2 linked regions of the Homo sapiens genome follow. The protein of the gene in region 2 interacts with the protein of the main gene of each other region in a pairwise test. Each region holds a gene or a part of one and is shown on either strand. Other genes may lie near its edges.

The links. The genes of interacting proteins can lie anywhere in the genome.
Region 1: the proteins of GEM (region 2) and KATNBL1 interact in binary tests that used the Homo sapiens proteins (3 or more experiments, as listed by UniProt).

The regions. Positions count from the first base shown.
Region 1 is NC_000015.10:34,154,465-34,158,215, reverse strand, and holds part of KATNBL1 (KATNB1-like protein 1), read left to right. Parts: intron 1-3,531; coding exon 3,532-3,572; intron 3,573-3,751.
Region 2 is NC_000008.11:94,260,709-94,264,459, forward strand, and holds the start of GEM (GTP-binding protein GEM), read right to left. Parts: upstream 1,612-3,751; 5' UTR 1,382-1,611; intron 1-1,381. UniProt on the Homo sapiens protein: Could be a regulatory protein, possibly participating in receptor-mediated signal transduction at the plasma membrane. Has guanine nucleotide-binding activity but undetectable intrinsic GTPase activity.

The DNA of each region.
Region 1 (3,751 bases), on a different chromosome or scaffold from region 2:
TGTGATGCAGTCCTTTGGGTTTATGGATGTGTAGCAATTTACACTTTGACATGACAGGTTACAGATAGTTGCCTAGTATTTAGGATGACTAATAAGCAGACCCTCAGAAAACCACCTCTTAGGGGAAGGTATCTGGAATTAAGACTGTTCCAAAGTATCCAAGTTGATTACGCCAAGATGCCCCAAATTGGTTGTCTAAAATATTTATTAGTAATAGTAGATCACCTTACTCATTGGGTAGAAGCTATTTCCTTTCAAGTGCAACTGCTAATAATGTAGTCAAAACATTAGTTGAAAATATTATACCCAGGTTTGGATTAATAGGAAACATTGATTCAGATAATGGAACTCATTTCATTGCACATGTCATTAAGAAATTAGCCCAGGTACTGGATATAACATGGGAAATCATACTCCCTGGCACCCACCTTCATCAGGAAGAGTGGGGAAAAAAATGAACCAAACTCTAAAAAGCCACTTAAGCAAATTAGTCTTAGAGACTCGGTTGCCATGGACTAGATGCCTTCCCATTGCCCTGTTGAGAATCCGAACTGCTCCTCAGAGAGATGTTGGCTTATCCCCTTATGAAATGTTGTGTAAGTTGCTCTATTTGCACTCCGCTGCTGACATTCCCATGTTCGAAACAAAAGATCAGTTTCTCAGAAATTATATACTTAAGTTTATCTTCCACTTTCTCTTGCCTCAGAACTAAAGGTCTTTTAGCACAGGCACCACCCCTAGAGTTTCCAGTACACCAACATCAGCCTAGGGACCACATCCTTGTCAAAAGTTGGAGGGAAGGAAAACTTGAACCAGCTTAGGAAGGACCCTGCCTAGTGCTTCTAACCATTGAGACCACAGTTCAAACAGCAGAAATGGGATGGACTCATCACACCCAGGTCAAAAGAGCACCACCTCCTCCAGAATCATGGGCAGCTATTCTAGGGCTTACTCTAACCAAGCTAAAGCTAAAACGGGTTTGATCCTCTTATGTTGCATCTCTTCTTTTCCCCATCTATTGCTAGTCCTCTTGTTATTAATGTAACTAGGTCGAGTTCACCCCAAACTATTACCTTTGATGCTTGCCTTGTGATGCCCTGTGGAGATGTGCCAAGCCAGAGGCAACTCTCCACTTCAGAAAAGTATCTTTGTCCTTCCTAGCTCTTCTCAGACTGGAATTCTGTTAACTGGGATAAGTTAGCTTGGGAAGAGTTTGACGGAGATTCCAGTATAAACTGAGAGTCTTGCCTTCCCAATACAAAGCTTTTATGCTGTAGTTGGTCCAACATTCTGTGGACCACTAAAGAGCAAGAATAGATTGCCCCAAGCAGTAGTTGTAATTTCCTAAAGCTATACATTCATTTTACTAAAGGAACAGCTTCCCCTAACTGTCAGCTAAATCAGTACAATCCAGTACAGGCTATTATCTCAAACCCTCTAAGTTCTTCCCCTTCTCTAAGCCAATTTCCTTCTTTAAGCCAGTTTTATAATATGGGGGCTGAGGTTTCAGGAGCAGACCCTATCAGATCCTTTGAAATATTCTTCATTGCTCCCCCACCGCCTACACCTTCCCCTAAGCCTTCTTCCAGAACCTCCCACAACAAAACTGTTGTTCTTCCTCCATCTAATGACAAGACGAAGGTAGCTATTGTAGAAGTCAAAGTCCTAAAAGAAACTTTAGCAATTGAGACGGGATATCAAAATGCCAATGCCTGGTTAGAATAGATAAAATATTTCATCCGCACTTTAAACAAAAGCAATTGTTATGCTCGTGCGCATGGCAGGCCAGAGGGCCAGATTGTCCCCTTTCCACTATGATGGTCCTCCAGTCAACCAGGCATGGGCTGTATGGTAGCTCTTTTTCCAGGATTCCACAGCCTGGGGTAACAAGTCGTGCCAAGCTCTTTCTCTGCTATATCCCGAAGTTCAAGACCCCACAGGTTAGCCCCCGAGGGCCATCCAGCTTCTGTCTCCCGACACTGAGTTCATTTTGTGTCTCTCACGACAAAGAGGAAACTTAGCATCCCTTAGAGACCTAAAAGGATGCGGTGAGCTTAAGACTTTCCAAGAGCTCACCAACCAGTCAGCCCTTATACACCCCCGAGCAGATGTATGGTGATATTGTGGTAGACCTTTGCTGGACACTCTGCCTAGTAACTGGAGTGTCACTTGCGCCCTAGTGCAGTTGGCTATCCCTTTCACCCTGGCATTTCATCAACCAGAGAAAGAAAAAAACACAATGTCATAAAGCAAGGGAAGCCCCTTATGGGTCTTTCGACTCCCACATTTATTTAGATGCAATTAGAGTCCCACGAGGAGTACCAAATAAATTTAAGACCTGAGATCAAATAGCTGCTGGATTTGAGTCAATATTTTGGTGGGTGACAATTAATAAAAACGTAGATTAGATAAATTCCACCTATTACAACCAACAGCGGTTTATTAACTATACTAGAGATGCTGTTAAAGGAATAGCTGAGCAATTAGGGCTTACTAGCCAGATGGCTTGGGAAAATAGAATGGCCTTAGACATGATTTTAGCAGAAAAAGGGGAAGTTTGCATCATGATTAAAACTCAGTGTTGTACCTTCATCCCAAACAATACCGCCCCTGATGAAAGTATAACAAAGGCATTGCAAGGTCTAACTGCTCTGTCCAATGAGTTAGCAAAAAACTCAGGAGTAAATGACCCCTTCACAGGGTGGCTAGAAAAATGGTTTGGTAAATGGAAAGGGATCACAGCCACCATCCTTACTTCTCTTGCAATTGTAGCAGTAGTGCTTATCCTTGTTGGATGCTGCATCATACCTCGCATCCGTGGGCTAGTCCAAAGACATACAGAAACAGCCCTTACTAAAACTTCTCTCAGTTCCCCTCCACCATATTCTGACAAGCTCTTTCTTTTAGAAAACCAAGCAGAACAGCTATGCCAAGACATGTTAAAGAAATTTGAAGAGGAAGACCTGTAAAATTCAAAAGGGGGATATTGTTAAGTACAGTGAGTTCTGAGTTCCTCTGGGAACCAGTATGTCAGTATGTTCAGCTTTCTTATACTTTGTTCTCCATTTTAAAGTTTAACTTCCTCATTCTTTACACCTCCTTGCCCTAGTTTCAGTAAACAACCCCCTTCTAGCCTTTATACTCACATATTTAGAGTCCTTAGTCATCCTTAGTCACCTGCTCTGTCCTTAGTCATCCTTAGTCACCTGCACTGTAACCATCCTTCCTGCCTAAACTGCTCACCCCGCCACTCTGCCTCATACCCAGATAGCCTATCAGAATTAGTTTAGACTGTGCGGTCCAACCCTAGCCAATAGGGGAATGACACAGTAGTAGGGACTAGCTGCATTAGGGATAAGAACCCCTTCTCCTCCCATGCCCGGTATGCTCTTGCGACCACTCCAGGCACGATTGGCACCCTTCTGCAGAAGTAAATTGCCTTGCTGAGAAAGCTTTTTGCCGGAGTGCTGATTCTTCTTTGCGGCACCAAGCATTTGTTTCTAACATCAACTATCTACTTTCATTTTTCAGGTTAAGAAATCTCCAAAACAGTTGGCTGCTTACATAAATAGGTAAGAGTTTCTTTAAAGTTTGTGGGGAACAACAAATATGAAAGCTGGGTAAGGATGACAATAAGGGAAAAATAAGCATTCTTTTATCATAATAATAATTAACTTATTGTCAAACAGCTTCTTTATGCCAGTATCTGCACTAATAAACACATCAATATTGTCTCTGCTCCTTACAACAG
Region 2 (3,751 bases):
ACTGTCAGTAACCAGCTCCTCAGGCAGACTATCATTTGCATGGGAAAACAAATACGGTTAACATCACCCACTGCCCATGGGCTTCCCCCTTCCTCAAAGCAGACTTGGATGAAAGAAGAGCTGCACTCAGAGCTGGCACAAAGGCAGCTGGAAAGAACCAGCAGACTCCAAAGATGGCTTGAAAAGCAACAAGTTAATGTTGCTGGGGACCAGCTGGTCAGGTTAGCTGCTCTTGTCTAAACTTGGCTCTTAATTGCACCAGTGTCCAGCAGGTTTTGTGCCTCAGTGGGAAACACGTGGCAATGACATCACCCTCCCCTCCCCTGCCCACTGCAACCCTGGCTGGACTGGACAGGCACTTATTGGAACTTCCATGTTTAGTAAAGTTGCCTTGATGCTCTCCAGCTGCCTGGAGAGCATCCACCTGCCATTATTGGGGGTAGGGGGGAAATTTTCTGTTTAAAGTTTATGCCTCAGCTGTGCCCTCTTACCCACAGATACCACTTTTAAAACATCCCGGCTCCAAACCTAGACACCCTGGCAGAGAAATGACCTGCTCATGTTCAGACCTATGAAATTTGCAGAGAAAGTGCCTCATTCTTAAAAAACCACATCCATTCTCAAGAGTTCTTTAATTCAACTCAGATTCCTTTTTTGAGTCAGGGTCTTGCTCTGTCACCCAGGCTGGAGTGCAGTGGCACGATCATAGCTCACTGTAGCTAGCCTCCAACTGCCAGGCTCAAGAGATCCTCCACTTCAGCCTCCCAAGTAGCTGGGACTACAGACCTGCACTACCACGTCCACTAGTTTTTTTATTTTTATTTTTATTTTTTGGTAGAGACAGTGGCCTCACTATGTTGCCCAGGCTGGTCTCGAACTCCTGGGGTCAAGTGATCCTCCTGCCTCGGCTTCCGAAAGTGCTGAGATCACAGGCCTGAGCCACCATTCTCAGATCCCCTTCTTGAAGCAAATCAGAAGGCTGAAGACTCCCCTAAATGATATTCAACAACTTCTCTACAACTTTCCCTTTGCAGACTGCCTCCCCTAGCCGGGAGGTCTGTTTTTCCGGCTACTGGTGATAAAGTATAAGTACTTACGTTGCAATCAGCAAGATGCACAAACACTCCTCTCCCACCCTCACCCCCACACTCCGTACCCCAACATCTCGCCACTAACCAGGACGACCAGCCGGTTTTTTAGTCTCAAAAGCAGCACCTCAGTTGGCAGACTTACATTCAAACAACAAATACATAAAGCATCATTAAGGGCTGCCCTCTCTGACCACTCGATCTGTAGAGGGAGGTGACCCTTCTACCGAATTGAACTAAGGAACCTGCTGATGAGAAGCGACATCCTTTGCACTTGAAGCTCTGACCCCTACCAGAAAATCCCAGTGCTGAGCGCACGTTCCAGGGGTTCTTTTCTCAACTTCGAAAGTTCTGCGGGCTGGGAAACTCCCACTCTCTCCCTTCTCCGTCTCGGGCCGTCCCCCTTACTTGGCTCGGCCGGATCGGCGTCGGGGCGTCAGCGTATCGCGTGGGTCCGCGCTGGGATACCCGGGCCAACGAGCGGGGAGTGCTGCGCTGTGCCCGCCGTCCTTGCCCGCCGCCTGCAGCCGCCGCGGCCGGGCGGTTTATAACCAGCCCAGCCGACCCGCCGCGGGGCTTTTCCGTGACGTCAGCGCCCCCGCCGGGAGGGGGCGGCTCTGCAGCAAACTCGGAGTTGCAGCCACTTGGCTAAATCAGTTACTCGCAGTCATGTGACCCCTTCTCTCTCCATTTAAAAAATAATGACAGTTCAATCCTGGGCCTCCTTTATTTTGTTTTATTTTCTTTTTACCAGATGAACACAGGAAAATGGAAAAATACACTAAGTGACACTTAATCGTCCTTCCCAGCAAAGCACTTGCGAGCTGTCGGGATAAAGGATGGAAGGGAGAGGCAGGTTTGAGTTGAGAACTCAGTTTTGCCAAGAAAACAGAGATCAACCTGGAATGCGCAGAGACTTTAGCCTCCAGGATGAGACTGCAGCCACCTTGAATAGCCAAGGCTTGTTTTAACCACATCTTCTGCAACGAAGACAGCCTTGTCACCTTCTTCTGGATAGGGGGAAGCAGATGGAGCCCCACAAGGCTTTGTTTCCCTTCTCTGGCAAGGACCCAGAGAGAAGGGGCCAGAAAGAGGTGAGGAAAGAGGACAAGACCTTGAAAAGGGCAGTTTGGAAAAACAATTTAATTGAGGATCCAAGCAGATTGTGCTAAATATTGCTGGCCCTCCTGCTCTGGGCCAGAATGCTGAGGCTCCTCAATCAGGGAATTTAATCAGCATCCCAATCAGCAGCATCTCTGTACCAGGCTCCCTGGCAAGGCTACGCCTTGGGCATGAGCCAATACAGCCTGGCCATGGGGAGGAGCACTGAGACCAACACCCCTGTAAGAGACTCCTGTGAACAAAGGGCACAGGATAATAACTACTACTACCATTTATTAAGTACCTCTGAGGACCTCTGCTTAGTAGGTACTGTTAGGCCTCCTGGGACCTTAATCCTTACTATACTTCTGCAAGGTGGCTCTATTTCTACCCTCATTGTATGGAGGAGGAAGATAACATAGGGCCAGAGAATTTGCCCAAGGTCACACCGCTGGTATAAGTGGCAGGGTCAGGACTCAAAGCCTGGTTTTCCTGAGTCTCTGCACTGCACCACCAAGTGAAGGATTTCAATGACCTCTTTCTGGGGACATGGGTATTTCCCAGATGCTGTGTTTAGAGATGATGCTGGCCTCTCCAACATATCTGCTTTTCCAGCCAGCTTCAACTCTGGGTTGGCTGGTGGCTCCGGGAAGCAGCCAAAGGCACCAGCATCTATTGAAGCAGCTGGACTCTGCTGTGATTAGAGTCAATTCACAGTTATCCTGCAGGCATTTATCTGCTTTGAGAATTAGCTACATGACCAGCTGCTGAGACCTGCCAGGTCCCAAGCTAGCAAAGGTGGAATCCATAGAGTAATGAAAACTTAGAATTCCTTTAGTCTCAGGTGTTGTGGCCCCAATCTCCTACTTATCTTATACATAAGAAACCTGAGACCCAGAGAGGAGATGACCGCTTAGGACATGACAGAACTGGAACTACAACCTGGGGATCATAATTCTCTGGATGCCCTTTGCTTCTGTCAAGTTTTTCTTCTGGGTTTCGCTGACAGGAAGTGGCTACAGATGTGGGGAAAGGAAAAGGAGAGGAGATGGGGGGTGGGGGAGATCATCTCCAAGAGTATATCACTGACTCCATTCTAAAACACATGTAATTGATGAATAATCCATGTTTCAAAATGATCCATGCTTTTTCCATACTGACACTCCTACTCTGTCAACTGGTCTCAACAGAAACATCATAGGAGTAAAAACTAAGAAGAAATCAGTTTATAAGCATATGATATAGTTCCTCAGTTCTACTTTTGCCGATTGATAAGAATCTAATACTTCACATTTATAAAAACCTAATTCTGGCCAGGCACAGTGGCTCACGCCTGTAATCCTAGCACTTTGGGAGGCTGAGGTGGGTGGATCACGAGGTCAGGAGTTCAAGACCAGCCTGGCCAACGTAATGAAACCCTGTCTCTACTAAAAATACAAAAAAATAGCCGGGCATGGTGGTGGATGCCTGTAATCCCAGCTACTCAGGAGGCTGAGGCGGGAGAATCGCTTGAACCTGGGAGGCAGAGGTTGCAGTGAGCCGAGATCGTGCCATTGCACTCC